Homo sapiens: one gene and its partners. The protein of the gene in region 6 interacts with the protein of the main gene of each other region in a biochemical or structural test. Each region holds a gene or a part of one and is shown on either strand. Other genes may lie near its edges.

Region 1 (3,500 bases), on a different chromosome or scaffold from region 6:
AACCAGACACAAGACACAAAAACCAACTCTGGGAGGTCCTGGAGAGCTATGAAAAGCAGGCAGAAAGTGGAGGGGAGTTGTCCCCTGAAAGGAGAGAGCTGCACCAACTAAAACAAGTGTTTCTAAAAATGGCTAGAGCACAGGTAGAAGTTGTGATCCTCCCAGCTTGAAGAGTCCAAGATAGGGCTTGGGGAGGGCTGGGTGGCTGAACAGTGAGGGGCATATCTCAGAAAGGAGGTCACTGGGGAAGAGGCAGTCGTGAGATCTGTTAGTAAATTCTGCCTAGGTCCTGGCCAGTGGTGAGCCATCCATGCACAGAGAGACCCCAGAGTCCAGCAGAAGGAGGCAGCCGGAAGGTCAACAGCACCAAGCAGAGACTGCAGCAGAGATTTTCATTTGAGTCCAGACAAATTAACTTCCAGAACAAAAATCAACACTCTTCAGAAAAAAGAAGTCACTACAGTTACCATCTACAATGTCCAGTACACCATCAAATAACACTAGATGTTCAAAGAAACAGGAAGATGTGGCCCATAGTTGGAAGAAGCCAATAGAAATTGATCCTGAGGTAATGCAGGTGTTGAAATTAGCAGAAAAGAACATTAAAGCCGCTAGTATGTGTTCAAAGATTTAATGACAGTATGATCACAATAAACAAATGACAGAGCAGAGAAATGGCAACCATAAAAAATAAGTGAAAATTCTAGAAATAAAAACTACTGTAACTGAAATTTTAAAATGCACGAAACTTAATAGCAGTTTGAAGATGGTGAAAAATTACATATCCAAGAAGTTCAACAAACCCTGAGCAGGACAAATACAAAGCAAACCCTCCTAAGAACATCACAATCAAACTGCTGGAAGCCAAAAATCCCAGGAGGAGCTTGAAAGCACCTCATCATATAACATAAAGGAGCAACGCAGCTACCAGAGTGACTGACTTCTTAGAAACAGCAAAGGGGCAACATGACGAGACTATGAAAAAATAAAATGAAAAGTAAAAATTGCCAGTTGTGGGGGTGCATGCTTGTGTTCCCAGCTACTCAGGAGGTTGAGGCAGGGGGATCGCTTGAGCCCAGGAGTTTGGGGCTGCAGCGAGCTATGACTGCACCACTGCACTCCAGCCTGGGCAAAAGAGTGAGACTCCGTCTCTTAAAAAAAAAATTGAACAAACATCAAAGAGATCAACAAGATGAGAAAAAAGAGAATTAGAGGATCAACCTAGGAGGTCCAACCTCCAAATAAAAGTTCCAGAAAGAGAAAACAGCAAAACTGAAAGAAAATTATCTTTGAAATTTAAAAACTTCTATCCTCAGACTGAAAGGGCCCACGGAGTGCCCAGCACAATAAACGGAAGCAGATGCCATTATCGGGCTTCTCAGAACACTGAGGGAAAAGAGCCGCTTCTATGAGCTTGAGGCAGGAGAGATCACACACAGAAGAACTGAAATCAGAATGGCGTCAGACCTCAACAGCACAGAAACCAAATGCAATGAAGCAACATTTTCAAAATTCCGAAAAAATCATTGTCTAAAATTTTATACCCAGCTAAGTTAAAAGGTAATTGGAGAGTAAAATAAAGATGTTTTCTAAATCAAGGACCAAAAAAAATACCTATGTGATGTTTCTTAGGTATCAAAAGAGTAGGACTTCAGCAAAACGAGGAGTGAGCCAAGCAGAGAGAGAAGAGCAGGACCCAGTGCACAGGGAGCCCCACAGATGGAGGACAGCAGCGGGAAATGCAGGTGACAGCGGCGCAGCAGGTCTCCTGGAGACCAGGGCAAACGAGAGCAGGGAGAAGGCTCCAATCCCAAAGGGGTGGGGATGGGGCTAGTGTCCTGGATGCAATGAAAAACAAACCATTTTGATAGGTGGGTGACTAGAAGATGCTAATCCACAGGGCTGTGCGAGAGGACCTGTGCTCAGGGCACTCCTTGGCGCAGTAATGAGCAATGCTTACAGTCACACAAGAGCAAGGACTGTCGATTTCACCAAAAATGCAGTGATTATGATGGCACATAGAGGGACAGGGAGGCTGGTGGGACAGAGGAGAGCTAAACCTCCCCACGGCCTTTGGGAGAAATAAAAAAAGAATGTCTTAAGCTTTAAAGGAGCAGCTTCAACAGCAGTAAATGCCTGAGAAAACAGACCACTTAGGATCCCGCCTCTGGGGGCTGCGGCCAGGCAGGGCAGGAGAATGCCTACAACTGGACGCTTCAATCCACAGACTCAGCCCTTTTTCAGGCATGCTGGAAGGACAACTAAGATCACTGCTAAGGGACACAAAGATGTAGGAAAAGATATGTGAGTAGAGTGTGTATGCGTATCGGGTATCACCATGATTACAGAGTTGGGGACAGCAAGTGCATGGAAAAGCAGAAAGAAAAGAAAAACAGAAAGAACAAACTAGATGTTTCTTTTCTCTTTCACTGAAGTCCAGACCTTAAAAGACACAGAAGAAGGGAACTTCTAACACAAGAGTTCCTTGCCCGGAGCCCGAGGCAAGAGGCTCCTTCATGGAAGAATCTAGGCAACTTCTGCAACGGTGGCCCCCAAAACCACAGGTAAAACTGCATGAGCACTGTGTGGAGTATCCAGTTTGGAACTGGTAACGACCCCACCTCCTAAAAAGGCACAGCATGAGTGACCTCCCACAACCTCTCATGACTGGGGCTTGCATCCTGAGCAAGGCTTGTCTTCCTTCCCAGGACACCTGTTTCCAGGATGGCTCCCGCCTCTCCCCAAGGGCAGGGAAGTGAAACCACAGGGACCTTCCCTGGACAAACCCTGCCCATCCCAGAGAAGAGGCATGAGACGGGTGCTCCTCGCACACAATGGGAAAAGTGAAGTCATTTCGAAGACAAGTGAGGAGCCTGCTGTAGGCTGAATAGCGATCCCCAAAGATATCCAGGCCCTAATCCCTGGGACTGTGAAAGCCATACGGCAATACGGATCTGCAGATGTGAGTAAACTAAGGCTCCCAGGACAAGGAGATTATCCTGGAAATTTGAACATGGCAGAAGAAGACAGAAGCTAGGCGCGGTGGCTCGTGCCTGCAATCCCAACCCTTTGAGAAGCTAAGGCAGGAGGATCACTTGAGGCTAAGAGTTCAAGATCAGCCTGGGCAACATAGTGAGACCCCATCTCTACCAAAAAAAAAAAACAGAAAAAATTAGCTGGGCATGGTGGCACATGCCTGGGGTCCCAGCTACTCAAGAGGCTGAGGCAGGAGGATGGCTTGAGCCAGGAGTTCAAGGCTGTAGTGAGCTATGATTGTGCCACCGCACTCCACCTGGGCAACAAAGTGAGACCCTGTCTCTAAAAGGAGAAAATAAAGAGGAGGAGAAAGACAGCGATGTGACAATGGAGGCAGGGCAGGAGCCGGGAGCCAAGGAATGAGGCCAGCCCCCAGAAGCTGACCAGGGGGGCAGTTTTCCTCCAGCCCCCAGAAGCTGACCAGGGGGGTGAACGGCTCTCCTCCAGCCTCCAGAAGCTGACTG
Region 2 (3,500 bases), on a different chromosome or scaffold from region 6:
AGATTCTCCTGTCTCAGTCTCCTGAGTAGCTGGGATTACAGGCACCCACCACCACACCTGGCTAATTTTTATATTTTTAGTAGAGATACGGTTTCACCATGTTGGTCAGGCTGATCTTGAACTCCTGACCTTGTGATCCACTGGTCTCGGCCTCCCAAAATGCTGGGATTACAGGCATGAGCCACCGTGCCTGGCAATTTTTGTATTTTTTAGTAGAGACGGAGTTTCACTATATGTTGGCCAGGCAGGTCTCGAACTGCTGACCTCAGGTGATCTGCCTGCCTCAGCCTCCCAAAGTGCTGGGATTACAGGCGTGAGCCACCACTCCTGGCCCAGAAATTCTTAAACTTTAACATTTCCTCAACATCTCCATAAACTAGGTGGACATTTCTGTTTTTTCTCATTCTAGTTCCATCTTCTCCCTTTATTTTCCCCTCTGATGCCACTTCTCGTCAAAGCAGTACTGAGGGAGAAGGTCAAACTCTTTCATTTTATTATATATTTGAACAAAAACGTATTTCCAATATGTATACACTCTTGCATCTCTTTGAGAAATTTAATATACAAAATCTAAACTTAAAAAACAGATAAATGTAAGAGAGACAAATTGTTATTTACTTTATAAAAATAATTTGCCACATCTGTTTAAATAAAGAGTGTATTTTCCCTAGTTGAAAGCATTTAAGATGTGATTTGTTTTGAAAAATGTCATTTACACTCAATGTTTAAAAACATATCTATTGTATAAAGAACAATCTAGGTTTATTCACTTGGATTATTATAGTAACCACTGATGAGCTGTATGAAAGTGATAAATCTCAAAATACCTGCATCTCCCTCTTTCTCTTTGGATATGAGGTAAAATATGTTATTAATACTACCTATTTAACAAAAATATGCAGAATGTAAACTGAACACAACATGTGCACTGCTGAATACAACTTAGGAATAAAGTGATTATTGCAAGTTATTACACTTACAAAATGTACACTTCCAAATAAAAGAAGATTATCTAATTATCGTATAATTCAACAAGATCTAGGGAATTGATCTGGCAATATAATATGTTTTGTCTTACATTTCCCATTCAATTGTTCAATTGCCTAGATTGCCCAATTTCCTCATTGTAGCAGTTGTCTTCTGAATATAAATATAAGTCCCATTGTTAATCCAGGGACTTCCAAGCAGATGATGTCACTTCAGTTCACCATCTTACTGACTTAGGATCACACATACATTACGACTTATACCTATTTAGCTGAACATCACTCAGGTGAGGAAGCTAACTTTTGAAGGGTCAGACACCACATTTATTTAATATGCTCCATGAAAAAATTAGTCCAAGATAATAGTAGCACTCTTAGTATACTTTGCCAACAATGACACGGGCCTGAAGAACCCAGCACATGCCACCAAAACGACCAACGATGTAATGTGTACTTAGTTCAACCAGACTGTGAATGATCTGCTATGTCTACAGGAAAGATGGAACGCTAGATTACTTTAAATAGCTCTGACTTAGAGAACATACCTATGAAGATGAGGAATTAAAAAATCTTATAAAGTAGCTGTTCACATTAGTACCAGTATAGGAGACAGCCAAAATCTAAGTTATAAACAGGTAATGAAAAATCCTCAAGGACTAACTGAACCATGTTTCTCCCTACCTCACTTGTCAACATTCCCAAGTTCTCTCTTTACTAACTGCAGTTCTTTCAGGCACTTATAATCATCAAATGCAGTTCAAAAAGAAATATATCCAACAACAAGAATATTAAAAAAGAATTTCAGTCTTCTGTATGATTAGAAACTGTTTCAGCCCAACAGTCAGGAATAAAAAGGATTTAAACTAATAAACCATTAACTGAAAAACTGAGAGAGATGTAGAGAAATGTGAATTTAAATGTAAATTCTGCCATCAGGTAAATATAATATAAAGCTAGTAGTTATAAAGAGGAAGTTACTCTAATTACTTCTAAGTTGCTAGGCCAAAAATTCCACAATAATAATTCTACCTCCCAATTGTTGTTTTTCAGAGGTACTGAGTTTTGCCTAGTGCTTTGGTGATGCTTCATAATGTTTACAAGACACCATGCGTCCACTCCATGGAAATAATCATCAATGAGAGAAGCAACATCATCCTAATCAGTTGCACAGTTAAACAAAAAAAAAAAAAAAAAAAAAAAAAACGACATCACTGAAGTCAAGAAGCACAAAATGACAAATGGTCAAGTTCCAACAGCTAAAAAGATCCAAGACATTATGAGCTTTTAATGAGTGAAACATGCCATGAGAAAGAGACCTTCTGTCAATAAATCCAAATCCTTGTTCACTAATTAAACCATCTTATACAGTGTCTGAATATGTAGACACCAGACTTCAACATTTCTTAATTATATTCAATTCCAGGCATATTTTTCCATTTAATTGACATTCTGAAATGCCTTTACAGTCCTATCAGATAGGTACCAAATTCTCAAGAGAGATTACCACACACTTCTGAATTCTTATTCATTTGATTGAAACTGTTATTAGCAAAGGTTTTTTTTTTAAGTGGAAAGTGTGGGAAAGATTCACACCCCATTCTATCCATAACATGGGCGATGTTAAAGTCATCTGCATTTGGCCCACTTTCATGTGTACATTTCTTTGCAGTGAAGTTCTCCATAGCCAGGCCAATCTGAGAAAACCCTAGCTGCAAAATCCACCCTAGCATGGGACGGTACCACATGAATCACATAACACACTGCTCACCCAATCACAACAGCAACTGCTATCATTAAGCCACCACTTAGAACCAACAGAGAATTTCAAACCACAATCAAAAATAGATTTCAGAGGTCCAAAATATTGATCACATAGACTTAAAAAATCAACAAAATGTCATGTGTGATAAATGCTCTAGGTTTCAAAAAAGACCAAGCTGATCCTGCTACCAAGATATAGCCTCATTTTGCTTTGAAAGAAAACACACACAGACTTACATAGAATTTATCTGACAAAAAAAAAAAACCCTGATATTTATACTGTCATTAAGCACATTTGTCACTAAATTTAATCTGTGTCATCTGGCATACTCTTAGATGTTTACAATTATCAAATAATGTTCAATGATATTTAGTAGCATTAATAATTTGGGGCTTATCTCAAAATATAAAACATCAATAGCTGCTCCAGAGTGCTCACTTTTTGACCTTCCATGGTACTGAAAAGGCTACAATTTTTTTCAGATTGTTTGGAATTTAATTTAGTTGAAGTCCTGAAGTTACAATTAAACTTCCACTTAACCTTTCATAACTGTGCCTCATTCAACAGCTGGGCTTATCTCCAACATCTCAAAAAAGAAAAGAAAGAAAGAATTAACTGAAATATTATTTGCAACTGCTCTGAAAAGTACAAGTAGGATCAAGTCATAGAGAACGTCCAAGGTAAAAGTCTGCCTTTTCACTCACATTCTGGAAGCTAATGTTACTTTGTAAGCCATTTTTTACAAATTTTTT
Region 3 (3,500 bases), on a different chromosome or scaffold from region 6:
TTGGCTCCCAGGGGTCGTCGTGGTTACCTGGTAATGGGGGAGGTGGAGGGGGCAAGGGCGGAGCTGGTGGTGGAGGAAGAGGCAGGACCTCCTCAGGGGGTGGGGCTGGAGCCAGAAGGTCCAGGTCGGAGGGTGGCATGCCCTCACTCAGCTCTGCAGGGCCTACTCTGGCCAGGGCCTCACTGTCCACAGACTCCAGGCCCCGGACATTTGGCTCCAAATGACATCGACGCTGAAAGGCCTCCTCCTTCTCTTTAATGAGCCTCCGCAGGGTGTGCACCTGGTGGCTTGTGTTCTCATATGTCTCCTGGCAGGCAGACAGCACCATTAAGGGAAAAGTGGGCTGAAGGCATAGTCATTGCCCCAAGAGTGAGAATTCCTACCCAGGGTTCTCTTAACGAGGGTCTCTGTCAGGGTACTCAGAGGCTCAGAGTGGCAGAAACCCAGGTGGGGGAATGAGGAAGCTGGAAGGCAGCAAAACAAAAGAGGCAAGCAGAAGCTGCCTCCCTCCGCTGGCACCCTGAAGTGTCCTCTCTGCTCCAGCCAATTCTCACTGCATGGGCCCCTCAAAGCCCAGGAAAAAAGGTTGCCCCTGTGAAACTCTCCTTAATCTACCACCGGTCTGACATAGCGGCTCTCTCCATAACCCTTTGGGCCTCATTTTGCTTTAATTTCACTTGGCCTTGTATAATGGCTCAATTGGAAGCCCCCTATAAACAAGACCCTGTCTTAACCATCTCTGTATCCTCCATAGCTCCCAATACAATGCTCAGCAGAAGCTGGGCAGATACATATTGAGCTCAACAGAGCCAGCATATATTCTTCTGAAAGAGAAAGTAGGATGGGGGCATGACTTTATAATGAACAAAAAGTCAGGAGAAAATACAGAAGAGAATGAAATATGAAGAGTACCTGCCCTGCCAATTTAGGATACCTGGTGGACATCCTAATACACAGAGCACTTGGTCACTCTGCCCCTGCTCATTAAACATGGCTGGGGGAGGAACACGGGGGTAGAGGGGAGAAAAATCAATGGGATGGGCTGGTAGGAGGAGGCCTGGGTTGGAACTCCAGAATGCTTGTGGGTGCCCCAGCTGTTCCCACCCTCTTATGTGTGTGTCTGGCTCACACTGGCCCCACCTTTCCTCTCCAACTAAAAAAATGGGGTGAAATCATCAGCCCACCCACACCTGAGTACCTCAAGGGTGAATCAAGATCTAAATCCTAGAGAACTTGATATGACTCAGGGAAAAAAAGCAGAACCCCAAGGCGCTGGAGCCCAGGATCAGTCAGGGACTGCCTTCCCCAGAGTACTTGTACCTTGATGCTCTCTAGTTCCTTCTCCCGCTGTAGCAGCTGCTTCTCTAGTTCTGCCACCCGCATCATGTTTTCATTCTCTAGGTCCAGAAGCTTCTCTGTGAGCTGCACAACAGGAAGGGCAGGTTCTGTGCTGGCCCTAAAGCCTGGGCACTCAGCACAGCCTGAACCCTAGTCAAGACCTGAGTCGGACCCCTCAACACAAGGCCACAAAGGCAGCTTAGTCAGGTGGTTCCCTTATATTCCAATAACAGATACAAGACAAAGGCCACATTCTGACTGTCTCAAGACCAATGCCACCTCATGCCCAGCCCTGGAGGTCGATGTGTATTCCAACTGGTGGATGATCCAGTGGCTCAGGCCTGAGTATGCTCTTGAGAGCCCTGGTGGGTTCTAAAGCCTCCCTGGGACTCAATCTGGAGGCAAATGGGTCAGCTCAGGATTCCTGGTTACTTGAGCTTCCATCAACAGTGGCTCTGGCAGGCAAAGGAAGACCACCTACATGGGACACATGCTCCTCCAACTCCTCCACCTTCTCCAGGGCTACATTCTTGGTCTCAGCATCCTCCAACAAACCCCCGACATCAAACACGTTGTCCAGATATGCCTGAATCTGCACCTGCAGCTTCTCGCTCTCTGTGTGCCTTGACTTCTGGGGGAAGAGCAGAGAGTAGGAGTAGTTGTAGGAGCAGGCAGATCATCAGGGGAACTTTCTGAGAAAGTCTTAGTCCTCATCCCCCTTCGCCACCACTTCCCAAAGAGTTCCTGCTGCAGGCCATGTCAGATTCTCGCCCCCATGGAGCTGCCTGACTGGGGAGTTAGCTGCAGAGGTCCTGAGTCCCAGGCTACAGAAGACAGGCAGGGTCCCAGGAGCATCAAGGATTAGGCACTTATAAAAGAAAAATCATTTGTGATACGGCTAAACTGATCCCAAAGCACCTCACCTTACAAGGACCCCAGCCAGCTCACCTGCAGGAACTCCTCTAGCCCCAGCTTGGTAAACTCATACTGCAGGTGGACCCGGAAGTTCATGTCCTCCACCGAGTGCACCACGATGTTGATGAACTGCATGCAGGCCACCTGAAGAAGAGGAGGCCCAGAGAAGCAGCAACAGGAAGGGCAGAGGAAAGGCAAGAGACCAGGAGGATAGGCGGCTGTTAGAATATCATCATCATGTGGATAATTACAGGGAGTCAATTAAAGAGTTAAGTCTTTATGGGGGCAATAAGAGTATTTTAATTTTAAAAATGTCATTTAATATTCAGTGTATAAAGACAAGTAAATTACATGAAAAACAGATGTAAGTGAAGATATAGCTATCTGATTTCCTTTGTACATCAACAGGTATTCCTCGAGACAACCTTACCTAGCCAAAGACCCTGCAGTGAGGGGAAGAGAAGCTAGAGGAAGAGCTTAGGAAAGGGAGGGCAGCTCAAAAAGGATCCAATTCAAGGACAAAAAGGCCACAGAAAAGAGGAAAAGGAGGTAGATCTGATATACACAAATGATATCCTGAAGTTTCTAAGAGCTCTCTGGGGTAGGCAGGTGGACAAGAAGCATTTGCTGAATAGAATCATTCTGGGCTCTACGTGGAATATCAAGATACGCTGTTGGCCTCACCCCTGTTGTCAAGGAACACACACACAGCCCTGGTGGGTATGTGCTGGACCCAGGCCCAGTTCCTCACCATGAAGTCAATATTGCTGTCCTCATTCCGGAAATACTCCATCAGCTTCTCAAAGCGGTGCAGCTCCTTGCATACCTGAATGAGCAAACTTTCTCAGTGAAAGGATCTGCTCCATGCAGAACCCAAGCCCCTGCGCTCTGGCTCCTAGGAACATCATGGCAAAGGACTGGTTCAGACCAAGCTTAACCACAGCTCTATATATGAAATAGGCCATTCTGGACACTATAAAAGAAAACCTGGGGCCAGGCGCGGTGGCTCACACCTATAATCCCAGCACTTTGGGAGGCCGAGATGGGCACATCACCTGAGGTTAGGAGTTCAAGAACAGCCTGGGCAACATGGTGAAACCCCATCTCTACTCAAAATACAAAAATTAGCCGGGCATGGTGGCACATGCCTGTAGTCCCAGCTACTTGGGAGGCAGAGGCAGAAGAATCGCTTGAACCTGGGAGGTGGAAGTTGCAGTGAGCTGAGATTGTGCCACTGCACTCCAGCC
Region 4 (3,500 bases), on a different chromosome or scaffold from region 6:
TGGTCATGAAACAGTTTTACCAAAATATAATTCATATACTTATTTTACTTTAAACCTGAATATTACAGTACATTATATAAAAGATAAATGAGAATAAGGAACTAAATTATTTCTTACGATGTCAGAAATAATATACTTAAAAAGGTGTAGACCTTATTTTCAATCAAAGGCACTATCTGGAGAGTTAACAAGCTGCATCATGTTCAGAATTGAGAAAAAGTTTTTCTCCTTCCCAAATAACTGGCTGATTAGTAGAAACCTGTCATCTCAGCAAACACTGAATACCTAGTATCTAGCCAAAAAACAAACAAACAAACAAACAAACAAAAAAGACGGTGGGGGCAGAAATTGTGTAAAATTACATCTTTGACTTCTTTTCCCAGGATTTTTTTTTTTTTTAAAGAGACAGGGTCTTGCCATGTTGCCCAGGTTGGAGTGCAGTGGTTATTCTTTCACAGGTGTGATCATTACACACTACAGCCCCAAACTCCTGTACTCTAGTGATCCTCCTGCCTCAGCCTCTTGAGTAGGTGGGACTATAGGAGTGTGCCAATTTCTAAAAAGGCTGTTGAAGTGTTTTCTTGATCTAAAAGTGTCTGTTTCATTAACTCAATGCAATTTCCATTTTATTCACATCACTTGTATCCTCTACTCTCAGCTTGTCAACCCAGGATGGCAATGACACCAGGAAGGTAACTGTCCCAAGGGAGCAAGCTTTCTTATTATGAGTCATTTCATTCACTTTTCTCCCCTGAATATACTCAACTCTAAGTGTTTAACTTAATAACATTCAAATATCACAAAATGTCAGTAATTAAATAAAATTCATCGAGAACATTGTTCAATGCTTCAAAGTCTTGAACAACATACTTACATTAATTTGAATGAAAAGGAGTCAAACCAAGGCATAATATCCTATTGCATCCTAAAGGCCTGGGAGATTTTAAACTCTTCTAAGGTGTATTTGAATCAGATCTTCAAAGAAAAGAGTGTTATTTCTAGTTTTTTGTTGTCCAAATTACAAGAGTTTCAACGGATTAAGGTTTCCTTACCATGATTCTTTTAACACCTAATTCCTAATCAGAAATGGTACTTAAGAATATCAACGTTTAGAATTCAAACATGATTCTAGAAAATTTCTTATCTTAAAGTCAAACTATAACCTTTACTCAATAAAGCATACTCTTAAAGGTCTGTGATGCATGCTTTAAAGAACAGTGATGGGATTCTGGAGTTCTTTCCTTTCTTTCTCCTTCTCCAAAGATACAGATATCTTTCTACAGTTTTCTATGGAATAAGAGACTTCATCATATAAAATGGCTGGCATGTTTTCCCTTTTGAATAGTTCTGATTATAATATCCACCATGAAATTTTACGTTTCCAAATCATAAGCTTAATAGCAAAAGCAAACAATTTGACCTACCACTGAGCTAAATTGAAGAAGAAAAACCTGCATTTTAGAGTATCTGTTATCAAGGGTTAGCAAACTTTTTCTGTAAAGGATCAGATAAATATTTTAGGCTACCTGGGCCATATGGTCTCCCTTGCAATGACTCAACTCTGCTACTGTAGCACAAAGCGGCCATACACAATATTTAAAAGGGTGAGCATGGGTGTGCCCCAATAAAACTTTACTTATGGACACTGCAATTTGAATTTCATATAATTTTCATGTGACACAAAATATCAGTCTTTGGAATTTTTTTCCCAACTATTTAAAAAAGTAAAAACTGGCAGCTGACTGCAATAGCTTGTAGGCTGCACTTTGCTGACCCCTGGTCCAGATCATTCAGATTTCTTGATGTGAGGGTCAAAGCAATAATGTGGCCATGCATCATCTCACTTCACTTGGACATTGATAGCTTTCTGGGCTGATAGTATAGAACTCCGAACAAAAATCCCCAAAGCACAAGACAATCCTACGAGTAAGTAGTATCTACACTCACAGACTGTGTAGAGCTTGTAAGTGTTGATACTCATCTATCTATCTGTATATATATTCAGGAAACATTTAAATCAAATTCATTTAAATTATGTTGTCAAAAAAGCAGGGAATTGCCAGGTGTGGTGGCTTACGTCTAGTAATCCCAGCACTTTGGGAGGTCAAAGTGGGTGGATCACCTGAGGTCAGAAGTTTGAGATCAGCCTGGCCAACATAGCGAAACCCCATCTCTACTAAAAATACAAAAATTAGCCAGTTGTGGTGGCGTGCACCTGTAGTCCCAGCTACTTGGGAGCTGAGGCAGGAGAATCGCTTGAACCCGGGAGGTGGAGGTTGCAGTGAGCCAAGATCGTACCACTGCACTCCAGCCTGAGTGCAGTGAGACTTCATCTCAAAAAACAAAAATAAAAACAAAACAAAACAGAGAATTGAGAAATTCTTCAGCTGAACCCTTTCAAAAGCTTTGGTGTTAGGGAGATCTAGGTTAAAATCTTGGCTCTTGCTGGGAGCAGTAGCTCGCACCTGTAATCCCCACACTTTGGGAGGCTGAGGCAGGAGGACCACTTGAGGCCAGGAGTTCAAGACCAGCCTGGACAACACAGTGAGACACCTGTCTCTATATTAAAAAAAATCTTGGCTCTGCTACTTACTAGCTTGTAACCACAGATAAGTTATTTAACCACCAGAATTTAGCCTGGTGTTAAGGACAGACACGCAGGGGTATGTTTTCAATTTCATTTCTCAGGCAAGCAAATAGCTACAAAAACCTTGCTGGAAAGCCTAGTCCACAACGTACCTGAAGGCTTAACTCCTAGTTTTTGACAGAAAACTACTTTTATCTCTTCTACTCTATTTCATATTTTTTTTTTTGCCGCATGCAACATACTGTGCAAAACTGTGCCTCCATACATACTGAATTCTACTTTTCTCTTCCAAGGCTTTTTCCATAGGTTAACAAAATGTTTTTTTTTTCATAGGCTAACAAAAATGAGAGTAGAAAGTACCCAGTCAACATATTCATGTCGTCTTTCCATAGTGCAAGTATAATTTGGGTGTTTTCTCTAACTTATCAGTGACAGGCATCCTGTTTTCTAGGAAATAATATCTAAATGATATAGGAAAAACTGGTAGGAAAGGATTCTTATGGCTTTATCTATAGAACAAAAACTAGAGATTCTGAAGATCATGTTAATAGATTATTTGTAGATATAATTGCTATGTTTCTTGGACCTTAGCCCATTGCTTAAATTATATTCAGTAGAATATTAGCACTAACTAATATGTGCTATAACCTCTTCAGTCATGAAAAATTTAGTAGTTACATACACATGAAATAAAAGATTCCACCAACAGTGTTTTTGAACAGGCATCAGTTATGAATCTGCTAGTATTGAATGCTAAGCAAAATACTAAAGCTCTTAAAACATTAGTGTTTTATTTTTAACTTTTAACCTATTATTTACAGAAGTCCTGTTAGATGCTGAAAGCAGTCATTTTGCAACATGTATGTTCTTCATATAAAATGATGTTCAATGTTAGGTGGTACAGATTTATAAA
Region 5 (3,500 bases), on a different chromosome or scaffold from region 6:
TATATAGATAAGATGTTTTCTCCACTGGATTTAAGTCTTTCCTCATCAGTTTTTGTTTGTTTTTTCATCTCTTTTGTTGATGCTATCCTTTTAAAATACTCTTTTCTTTTTAAAATACTATTTCCAGAATATTTTAAGGGGATGGGAAAAGCAAATCTAGAAAATAAGACTTACCAGGTAAAGGAGAGGAACCTTCTGTAGCTTTATTAAGGAATTGTCACTGGAAAAATTTGCCTGGCTCTTAAGTACAAGACAAGGATCTTTTTGTATAAAATCTCCCTTTCAGACACCTTTTTCAGAGTAGAAAGCTCTCTATAATTATGTTTTCTGAGAATTTTAATTATCAAACATTGATAAGTAAAACTGTGAGAACAGACCACACTTGAAAGCTGGAGAGCAGAGGAGGGGTGCTGAATGCTGATTTTAGTTTATTAGGGTATCTTAATCTGATTAAGAAAGATTAAAATTTCAATGAAGTTTTGTGTTAGTTACTCATTTCACTGAGTATAGAAGATTTTCACAAGAGGAAAATATTTTCTCCCTGAAATAAGTGATTGCATGTGTAAATGTACATACTCTGGAAGTTTTCCCTGGCTCTGTCAACTAAATCTTTTAAAAGATTAAAATAAATACATATGGGAACTTTTTCAAGCCAGGTAAGGCATCACTCCAGCTTTTTTTTTTTTCTTTTTGGCTGTCTATGTCAATGTTCCTTATGAACTAAGATTCTCTTGGTTAAGGTAAGACTTCCTTAAGCTATTGGTCAACCCACATTATATATATTGTATGTATATTTATATTCATCTGTTTAGCAGTGAATAACATTCACAGTAAGTTCCACAGGTATCCACACTTGAGAGCTTAAAATGACAAGTAAGGTTTCCCTTTTTAGAAAATGGGATTCTCAACCAACTTTTTCCTAATATTATATATCATTCTCTTTCTTATCTTTGGTGTCTGTAGACACGGGCTTTTATAGCCAGATGGCATAGTGACTTAGAAAAAAAACTGTGAAGTATATTTGGCTTCTAGTGGTAGCAGGTGCATTCTGGTGAAGGAATAGATATGAAATTGATATTTCTGCTTATAAGGAACAGAGTGAAAATCACTCCAGGCCTGCCTTTGATGTGTTACAATTCTCCGTGAAAAGATTAGGGAAGCTTTTTAAGAGATCAGGTATTTAAGACTCTCTTTGAAAATTGAATTCACTGATTTTTTAATAGGTGTGAGAAAATTAATTTAATAACATAGTGGACTCAGATGCTTCATGCCGCCCTCAGACTCCTACCTCTGCCTCTTCTTGTCCTCTGACCTTTCTTTATTAAGTGAAATAATTTGAACTGCAGGACTATTTGTCATTTGGCACTTGACTTGTTTCACTTCCCGGTTTCAGCTGGGATTGAGATCAGCAATTACTGGAAATTGTAAATTTACCCAACATATTTTCCTGATTAGAGAGCTTCCAATCAAATTTGCATTTATATTTAGAAGTTTGGAAGTTTATCTGAAATAATTTCTGTACATTTTTTAGATTCTGCCTTACCAATTATTCTCTATTTCTAATCAAACACTTGCTTATAAAATGCTCCCGATGAGGCAGGTGGTATCTGAAAGTTCCTTCCAAACCTGTAAGTCTAAGGCACTTTAGAATGAGTATTCAAGAGCAGGTATCACCCCAACAGTCACACAAAAATGCCGGCATTTCTTATGTATAAGAATGGCATAGGTAAAACGGTTTGGGCCAATTCCAAAGTGCTAGCTGCGAGATGCAAGAACACTACCACTTTCTTTGCCTGATGGGCAAGCAGTCTGCTTCTGGGTCAAGTCAATTGAGGCTGTTAGCTTTGGCAAGTGTCTTGTGTAATCCTGTTGCTAATTCAGCCATGTGCATCATTCTCTGTGGATTATAATAGTTGCCGCCAATCCCCTACATTACACAGCAGCCTGGGAAATGCTCTTAGAGGTAAGAACCCCATCACTGCCAGCTCATCCACATCTTCCTTTAGCTAAACATTTACTGAGCACATACTGTTAAATGACTGATAGAATTATTTCCATTAGCGATACCTGTTCTTTTTTTAGTCAGTTTATTCTCCTTTTGAGTATCTTTGTTTTTTCTTTCAGTCAGTATTAGAGCTGACTTGGGTGTTCTGAAGCTGATGGATGGCTATAAAAATAACATTTCTTTTAAATTGTATTTTGCTGTTTAAATATCTTTTTTTCCATGTTTTTCATTAAGGACATGACAAATCTTTTCTGTGTGGTTTCTTCCTTGTCGCTTATTGCTCACTTTAAATTTGTGCTGTACCAATTGGTGGCTCTCTGGATTAGGCCATTAGTACTAGAAAGGGAGGTAAAAAGGTAGAACAACTGAAGCAAGAAAAAGAAATATGCAGGTATCTGAAGCTGGAGAGAGAACACTTACAGAAAATCATGAAAGTGTGTTGTTTTTTACTCTTTTTCATAGGGCAGTACATATTTGTGATTTTTTTCTAATTTTGTATTTTTTGTGACTTACGTTGTTTAGAGGTTAACATACGAAGAAAGAATGGCTCGTCGACTGCTAGGTGCTGACAGTGCAACTGTCTTTAATATTCAGGAGCCAGAAGAGGAAACAGCTAATCAGGTACCATGTTGCTCTGGACTTCTTAGGGTAACATTTATTCTGTCCCCCTTTTCCATCTTCCTTATGGATACTGTTCTTGGGATGAGTTCTGTGGAAAGTAGAGGGCAAGTCACAGAAAAGCAGTATTAATATCATCAGTCAACCTCACAGCTAATTTTTATTGAGCACATACTATGTTAAGTGACTGACAGAATTCTTTCCATCAGTGATACCTGTTCTTTTTATTCTTCTTCTTGATTATTCTCCTTTCCAGTACATTTCCATTTTCCTATCCTAAGTTTTATGCAAAATAATTTTGTGTGGAGAAACACATTTTCGCCGACATTGTCTGAAATAACTAGTGAATATTTCCCATTAGAGTTGGACCTTGAACAACACGGGAGTTAGGGGGACCAACCCCAAGCACAGTTAAAAACCCACATATGGCCGGGCACAGTGGCTCATGCCTGTAATTGTAGCACTTTGGGAGGCTGAGGTGGGTGGATCACGAGGTCAGGAGATCGAGACCATCGTGGCCAACATGGTGAAACCCCGTCTCTACTAAAAATACAAAAATTAGCCAGGTGTGGTGACGCACACCTGTAGTCCCAGCTACTCGGGAAGCTGAGGCAGGAGAATTGCTTGAACCCGGGAGGTGGAGGTTGCAGTGAGCTGAGGTTGTACCACTGCACTCCAGCCTGGCAGCAGAGTGAGACTTCGTCTCCAAAACAAAACAAAACTAAAAACACATATACGACTTTTGACTCTTCAAAAACTTAACTAACAGCCTACTGTTGACCAGAAGCCTTACTGATAACAAAGAGTTGATTAACACGTATTCTGTATGTTATATGTATTATAGACTGTAGTCTTAAAGTAAGCTAGAGAAAAGAAA
Region 6 (3,500 bases):
GGGTTAAATTCCTGGTCAGTTCTATGCCACAAAGAGCACAAAGTGTACTCACCTGTACAGAGTTTTGTCATGTTCACTGAATTGATTCTGAGAAGTGGGTTTGGGACCAATGATGGGAGCACCTGAAGGTTTAGATGCTACTTCTGGAGGCTGTTTAAAAAAAAAAAAAAAAAAAAGACAAATATGCCTAAGGAACAGATAATTAACAGAATAGATATCATGTAATGGCGGAGGGGAGAGCCAAGAAGCCTTTTAAACGGTGTGCCCATGCATCCAAGGCACTAAAGACATATTTACCTTAAAACTGCCAGTGTCATTTACATCCTTCTTGGTCTCTAAGGATGCAGATCTTTTGTTTTCAAACATCTTAACTCTGGTGAGTACAGACTGTGGCTTCATTGCTGGATCTTCCTCTTCTTCGGTTTGAGTTGGGGGTGGAGGCAGTGGTTTGGTGTTTGAAGGCAGAGCTTCTGGCTTATGCTGAGATGAAGGTATCAGCGGAGGGACAGCTGCAGCACCATGGAGAGGCTCAAAATGACCTGCTCTAGAGGTAAATCCTTGGGGTGGTACTTGCTCGTAACTGCGTGAATATTGCTCAAAATACTGCTTGGACTCTGCAGGCTTGGGCCCTGCTGAAGGGTGGGGCTGGGCTTCCGGTCTGAGTCTACCATGTGTGTCATACCCAGGAGCTGGCTGCTCTTCGTGCCGCAGGGCGGATGCTCTAGGTGCCTGTTCGTAACGTGGTCTGCTGTCGTAAGACAGAGGGGCTGGCTCTTCAAAACGTGGAAAGTACCCTCGTTCTGAGGACTCTTCGGGATGCTGTCTGGAGTCAAGGTCTTGAGAGTGCTGATTATCAAAAGGTGGCCGAGATGGGTAGGGCTGTTTGTCATCATAATATGACCACTGTTCTTCATACATGGGGACGCGATCTTCGTATCGCAGACGATGTTCATAGTTTCGAGAAAACTGGTCCGTATAGCTTGAGGACTCGTATCTGTATGTGGGCTGCTCGAGGTCTCTGCTGGCTTGTTTCTCTACGTATGGGAGTTGGGGTTCATAGGTCAGATTAGGCTCTTTGTCTGGCCTGTGCCCTGGGTGACTAACGGCTGGCTGTTTCAAAACATGGTTCTGCCTCATCATTTCCTCGGGATATGGATCCTTTCTATACACCTGTATAAAAAATTCACATTTAAGGACAAAGTCTTGTTTCTAATTCTAGTCTATTTTATTAGACTGTGATTAAATATTAAACTACGATTTAATATGTGAAAATGGTATGTTTTACCATTTATTATCAGGATAGACAAGATTAGTGGAAAAAGCTGGTTTAAGTGAAAGCTCAAAATTTATAATGCAGGTAGGGGCTTTTATGTTTCAGCATGTACTAAATAAACAGTGAGTTAAAGATAAATATTAAATTTAGTAGAAAATTAATGCACTATTGATTACACTTCATTTTGACACTGAAAAATCCTAAAGAAGATTTATGGGCATCATAATTTGTATTAACATAAATATGTTTATGATGGGTTTCGATTACATATTAAGGAATTCTGGAAGATACTGAAAGCCAAAAATAAAAATAATAAGCACAAATCTCAATTAAAAGGCCTGTTTTCAAATAATCAGTATACCAATGGAAGCCATGCAAACTACGAAACTGAAATGATTTGTATTGATTTGAAAGCATTACAGTGTATAAGCCTGCAGTAAAAAAGCAAAAGGAACACTTAAAGGGCAAAGCAAAAATGATCATGTGCCAGATTGATGGACAGCAACAAATTAGTGCAACACCGCAGCACAGGTACCTTTGTTGGATCTACATGCGACGACAATGATGGTTCTTGATCTCTTAGCATTATGTGAGCTGCCTCAGTACTTGGTGTTCTTAAAGAATCAGCTTGTGGTGAGTAAGAGGTGGAAGGAGCTGGGGTGGGCTCCTCCAGTCTGACATTAGTTAAATTTACATTATGATTAACAGCAGAGGTTGATGATGCTGGGTTTGTTTCAGGCGAAAGGTAAGGGACTGGAGATGAAGCTTCTGCTTTCTGTGAAGTGTTTAAAATATTTTAAATATAGTGTTTCTGTTTACTGCTAACTTTCCACTTCAATTTATAGTGATTGGTAGACATACATTTTAAGTGTGCTGAATAACAAAATTATGACCTCATGTCCTAAACTTTTTGGGAAAAAAAAAAAATCCAGTACATTGCTGTGTTAAGACAAACACACAAAATTTAGAATTAAGCCCTTGGTACTCTCAAATTGAAATTGAAGATTAATTCTTAATCTGGAGAAAGGACAACATATATATTTTTAACTCAATCACCACATTCTAAAATTTAATAATGCACCTCTATCTACAAAACGTTGAATGCTTGCTGCTTACCTGTTGAGAGGCTGGCTTAAATCCAGGGGAGTCTATTCTATGAATTGGTTGTGGCTGCGCTTGTGGTGAGTAAGGAGGATATGTTTGGTTTTCATGATGCATTCCAGAGGAGTCCTCTCTTACAGGCTCAGAGGACCGTGTAATGGCAGACTCCGGTGGAGTCCCAACCTCATCATTAAGAGTTTCATCTAGTTCTTGATCAGTGTAGGCCCCGCCTTCTGTGTCTGTGTCTTCATAGTCAGAAGTGTGTCTACTGTCCGTGCTATACATTGAGTATTCACTACCTGGAGCTGACAGGTAGGACAGACGATCATCATGCAAATCAAGGTCATCACTTGTAGCACCATCCGCCTGGGTCAAATAAAAGTAAATTACAAATTTTATTCAGTAGTTCTTTAAGAGATGGCCTTTATCGTACAAGGCAGATTGAAAAGGATATCTTTCTCTGGAGAAGTCACATCTACTTCTTGAAACTTCTGGTAAGGAAAAGTCAAGAAGATTGTACAAGCACACACGCAGACACATGGAGCACCCCTTGAGATCTGAAGGGCATGGATGAAGGAAACAGTGGCCGGTAAGCCAGGACAAAGTTAGACTCCAGGGCCCAGCCCTGGAAGACAACGAAGAAACTCTGACACTGCTCAGATTTATAAAACCTACTCACTAGCTCTTCAGCCCTTTTAAGCAAGGGGAAGAGGGAGAATGTTACCAAACTAAGCTCACAGAAACAAGGACACACTGACAGAATAGCACATGGAAGAATACCTATGAAATAAACCCAACAGTTCAAAAGTTGAATAAGAGCTAATATATTTATGTTTAGGAAACAACTGATATGGTTTGGATTTGTGTTCCCACCCAAATCTCATGTTGAATTGTAATCCCCAGTGTTGGGGGAGGGGCCTGGTGGGAGGTGACTGGATCATGGGGGTGGTTTCTAATGGTTTAGCACCATCTCCCTCACACAGTCTTGTGATAGAATTCTCCCAAGATCTGTTTTTTTAAGTGTGCAGCACCTCCCCAACTCTCTTCCTCCTGCTCCAGCCATATAAGACATGCTTCCTTCCCCTTCCGCCACGATTGTAAGTTGCCTGAGGCCTCCCCAGAAGCA
Region 7 (3,500 bases), on a different chromosome or scaffold from region 6:
TGGGTAGATCATTTGAGGTCAGCAGTTCGAGCCCAGCCTGGCCAACATGGTGAAACTCCGTCTCTACTGAAAATACAAAAAAATCAGCCAGGTATGGTGGCACACGCCTGTAATCCCAGCTTACCGGGGAGGCTGAGGCAGGAAAATCGCTTGAACCCGTGAGGTGGAGGTTGCAGTGAGCTGAGATTGTGCCACTGCACTCTAGCCTGGGCTACAGAGCGAGGCTCCATCTCAAAAAAGCACCACCACCGCCACCAACAACAAAAAACACACAAAAAATAAGATGTTTAAATCAGTTAATACTGTGATAGAAAAAATAAACAAATGGATGGCATCAACTTCTCTATCCTTTTCTTGACTTTTTTTCCCTTCAGATCTTTCTGGTGCTTGAATACATGATTTAACTCATATTTTACCATTTTCTTCTTAAATTGGCTATTAACTAGCAAAGACTGTGTTGTCATTACTGGGTAGAATTTTCTTTATGTGTCCAGGATTAAAGGATATATTATGTAATAGACACAAATAAGTGAAATAGAATGATAGTTTTAATGGTTTTCTTGTAAATCTTTTTTTCTTAGATCAGCAATCGAGTCCTGTATGTGTTTTTCACACATGTGCAAGAACTCTTTGGAAATGTGGTACTAAAGCAAGTGATGAAACCTCTGCGATGGTCTAACATGGCCACGATGCCCACGCTGCCAGAGACCCAGGCGGGCATCAAGGAGGAGATCAGGAGACAGGTGTGTGCACCCTGCCTGCCACAGCCTGCCTCTGCATTGGCTGTTGTGGAGTCCAGTGGTGATGGGCTCTTGTTTCCTGAACACTTTCTGTGTGTCTGGAGCTATGTTAGGCACACTGAAGTCAGAAATTCCCATCTGGTACTGTTTCATGCCAAATAAGTCAGAATACCATGGTGGAAAGAGCATAGTTTTTGGAATCAAAACACCTGGCTTTAAATTCTTGCTCTGATCTAGTTAACTGATTTTAGGCAAATTCTTAACCACCTTAAGCACTGGTGTTCTTGCTTTAAAATGGATCCTCTTATAGGATTGATGTGAAGATTACCCCAAATGAGATAATATATGAAACATGCCAGGCACGTTGTAAATAGTCTAAAGATGTTTGCCTTTTCTTGACAAGGTTGCTGTCATCAGCCATATTTTATAGATAAGAATATTAAAATTCAGGGAAGTTAAGTAACTTACCCTGTGTGACATGATTACTAATTACAGACCCAAGATTTGAGCCCAAATCCTGGGATTTTTTACTGTGCTATTTTGATGGAAGTAACAATGCCGTGTGTGTGTGTGTGTGTGTGTGTGTGTAATTCAAGACTAAATAAGAAAGTTAATTACATTTGATTATTTATTTGCATGCAATTTATCAAACCCCTGCTTGCTTTTCTTCCCTTGTATCTGCCCTGAGCTCCCAATGCTTACTAGTTAATGATGATGACATTGGAGATGGGGATGTGGATTAAGTATTATTGAACCAATACAAATTAGTGAATAATTAATAGGCAAAACAATAAGAATGATTTTTCAATCATATCTTCAAAAAAATAATTAGTGCCATTATTTTACTCTAATGAAATAAAGGATAATTGAAAAATAGTTGATTCTTCATCTTTAGAAATTGCACGTGTTGTTAGTTTAAGATAAGAGGATATGAAATGCAACTAGGTGTGTGGCATTTGCTTTCTAGGAGTTTCTTTTGAATTGTTTACATCGAGATCTGCAGGGTGGGATAAAGGATTTGTCTAAAGAAGAAAGATTATGGGAAGTACAAAGAATTTTGACAGCCCTCAAAAGAAAACTGAGAGAAGCTAAAAGACAGGTGAGTTATTATTTTGATACCTAATGTTTATAATAGAATGTGTTTGAGTCTTTTATGTACTTTATGTACTCTTTTTTTTTCTTTCTTTCTTTTTTCTTTTGATGTTGACCAGGGTGGTCTCAAACTCTTGGCCTCAAGTAATCCTCCCACCTCGGCCTCCCCCAGAGTGCTGGGATTACAGACATGAGCCACCACCCCCAGCCCAAGTTCTTTCTGTTAAGAATATTATAATGTCACTTGAAGTGAACTTCTCTGGTGGGACATTTATTCACTAAAATGTTTCTAGTCCTATATTATTGATATTGCAGCCTGGTGTCAGTCACATGTTTCAGTGTAATCTAGAAAGTTTTTTTTTTTTTTTTTTTTTGAGACAGGATCTTGCTCTGTCACCCAGGCTGGAGTGCAGTGGCACGATAATGGCTCACTGTAGCCTCGACCTCCTGGGCTCAAGGGATCCTCCTACCTCAGCCTCCTGAGTAGCTGGGACTACAGGTGTGCGCCACCATGCTCGGCTCATTTTTTATTGTTTGTAGAAATAGGGTCTTGTTATGCTGCCCAGACTGGTCTCAAACTTCTGGGCTCAAGCAGTCCTCCCACCCCCCAAAGTGCTAGGATTATAGGCATAAGCCACCATGCCTGGCCTAGAAAGTTTTGTTTTAATTAAAAATGATTTTACTAAAAAATTTGTCATTTCCTGCTTGGTTATACCTGTAAACAGGGCTTTCTATGGATGAAAAACAGGCTGGATGGTGACACACCTTTGGGGACTGCTGGGGAATTTAAGGCATTTAGAATTAGTCAGCTCTTTGGAAATGTAGTGATGAGGGTCACCTGGAAGGCCTTGAAGATCAGGAGAGATTCTATTTATGTAATAATAATAAGAGTGGCCTGCAATACCTGATGAGTTTAGGGTATGCCAGTCAGACTTTTGAGTTCCCTCTTGTTTAGTGTGTGTTGCTTGGTTCTGGGACTGTGAGTGTACCAGCCACAGCAATGGTAAAATCCCAGATCTCTGGATCACCTTAAAATCCACATTGCAGATCAACTGCAGCATCTAAACAGCACATCCAAGGAACATTAGTTAGCCCTTGCCTGAATTGGGGAACATGATAGTAGGTCTCTGTTGTGGTTGTGTTAAAGAGACAAAGACAACCTGAATACTTCTGTTTCTTTGAGGTTAGAGATTTGTATTAATGTGGAGGATAGCTTTGTCACACGGGGCACATTCATGGGACTTTTACACGTGCGCTCCAGGATATGTAATGTAGCAGAAGCCCTCTGCGTATTTTTCTTCCTTCTTTTTCCTAGCTCACTAGGTTATCTATCTCTTGCTTCCTTTACGTGTTTTTTGTTTTTGGTGTTGGTGTTGCTGTTAAAATTTTCCCTTCATGTCTCAGCCTAGAATCAGGTATTAGAGATGGACCACTCAGGCTTCAGGGGCAAATTGTAATTGTTAATCATATGGCATTGCCAGTCAGCCTTTAAATGAAGAGTCCCCTGACTGACCTAGGACAGGGCTGATGGAGGTTTGGCTTTTGTTTCTCTTGCTTCTACATCTTGCCTAAATAAAGGAATCATGGTATAGCAGCCAGAACCAATATAAGAAGGGATGGATTAACTTTGCTTTACCGATTTTCCCGATGCTATGTTTTCACGCCAGC

The links.
Region 1: the proteins of TJP1 (region 6) and RGS12 interact in a test that uses a peptide from one of them, tested with the Homo sapiens proteins (one large-scale study listed by IntAct).
Region 2: the proteins of TJP1 (region 6) and FAT3 interact in a test that uses a peptide from one of them, tested with the Homo sapiens proteins (one large-scale study listed by IntAct).
Region 3: the proteins of TJP1 (region 6) and FMNL3 interact in a test that uses a peptide from one of them, tested with the Homo sapiens proteins (one large-scale study listed by IntAct).
Region 4: the proteins of TJP1 (region 6) and EVI5 interact in a test that uses a peptide from one of them, tested with the Homo sapiens proteins (one large-scale study listed by IntAct).
Region 5: the proteins of TJP1 (region 6) and PALLD interact in a test that uses a peptide from one of them, tested with the Homo sapiens proteins (one large-scale study listed by IntAct).
Region 7: the proteins of TJP1 (region 6) and RALBP1 interact in a test that uses a peptide from one of them, tested with the Homo sapiens proteins (one large-scale study listed by IntAct).

What each region holds. Positions count from the first base shown.
Region 1 is NC_000004.12:3,296,021-3,299,520, reverse strand, and holds part of RGS12 (regulator of G-protein signaling 12), read right to left. Parts: intron 1-3,500. UniProt on the Homo sapiens protein: Regulates G protein-coupled receptor signaling cascades. Inhibits signal transduction by increasing the GTPase activity of G protein alpha subunits, thereby driving them into their inactive GDP-bound form.
Region 2 is NC_000011.10:92,231,318-92,234,817, reverse strand, and holds part of FAT3 (protocadherin Fat 3 isoform 1 precursor), read right to left. Parts: intron 1-3,500.
Region 3 is NC_000012.12:49,651,906-49,655,405, forward strand, and holds part of FMNL3 (formin-like protein 3), read right to left. Parts: intron 3,080-3,500; coding exon 3,005-3,079; intron 2,398-3,004; coding exon 2,287-2,397; intron 1,970-2,286; coding exon 1,820-1,969; intron 1,423-1,819; coding exon 1,321-1,422; intron 308-1,320; coding exon 28-307; intron 1-27. UniProt on the Homo sapiens protein: Plays a role in the regulation of cell morphology and cytoskeletal organization. Required in the control of cell shape and migration. Required for developmental angiogenesis.
Region 4 is NC_000001.11:92,509,109-92,512,608, forward strand, and holds part of EVI5 (ecotropic viral integration site 5 protein homolog), read right to left. Parts: 3' UTR 1-3,500. UniProt on the Homo sapiens protein: Functions as a regulator of cell cycle progression by stabilizing the FBXO5 protein and promoting cyclin-A accumulation during interphase. May play a role in cytokinesis.
Region 5 is NC_000004.12:168,892,052-168,895,551, forward strand, and holds part of PALLD (palladin), read left to right. Parts: intron 1-2,434; exon of another isoform or gene 2,435-2,527; coding exon 2,528-2,626; coding exon of another isoform or gene 2,627-2,714; intron 2,715-3,500. UniProt on the Homo sapiens protein: Cytoskeletal protein required for organization of normal actin cytoskeleton. Roles in establishing cell morphology, motility, cell adhesion and cell-extracellular matrix interactions in a variety of cell types.
Region 6 is NC_000015.10:29,717,969-29,721,468, forward strand, and holds part of TJP1 (tight junction protein 1), read right to left. Parts: intron 2,741-3,500; coding exon 2,390-2,740; intron 2,049-2,389; coding exon 1,809-2,048; intron 1,171-1,808; coding exon 298-1,170; intron 151-297; coding exon 53-150; intron 1-52. UniProt on the Homo sapiens protein: TJP1, TJP2, and TJP3 are closely related scaffolding proteins that link tight junction (TJ) transmembrane proteins such as claudins, junctional adhesion molecules, and occludin to the actin cytoskeleton.
Region 7 is NC_000018.10:9,524,013-9,527,512, forward strand, and holds part of RALBP1 (ralA-binding protein 1), read left to right. Parts: intron 1-581; coding exon 582-743; intron 744-1,707; coding exon 1,708-1,839; intron 1,840-3,500. UniProt on the Homo sapiens protein: Multifunctional protein that functions as a downstream effector of RALA and RALB. As a GTPase-activating protein/GAP can inactivate CDC42 and RAC1 by stimulating their GTPase activity.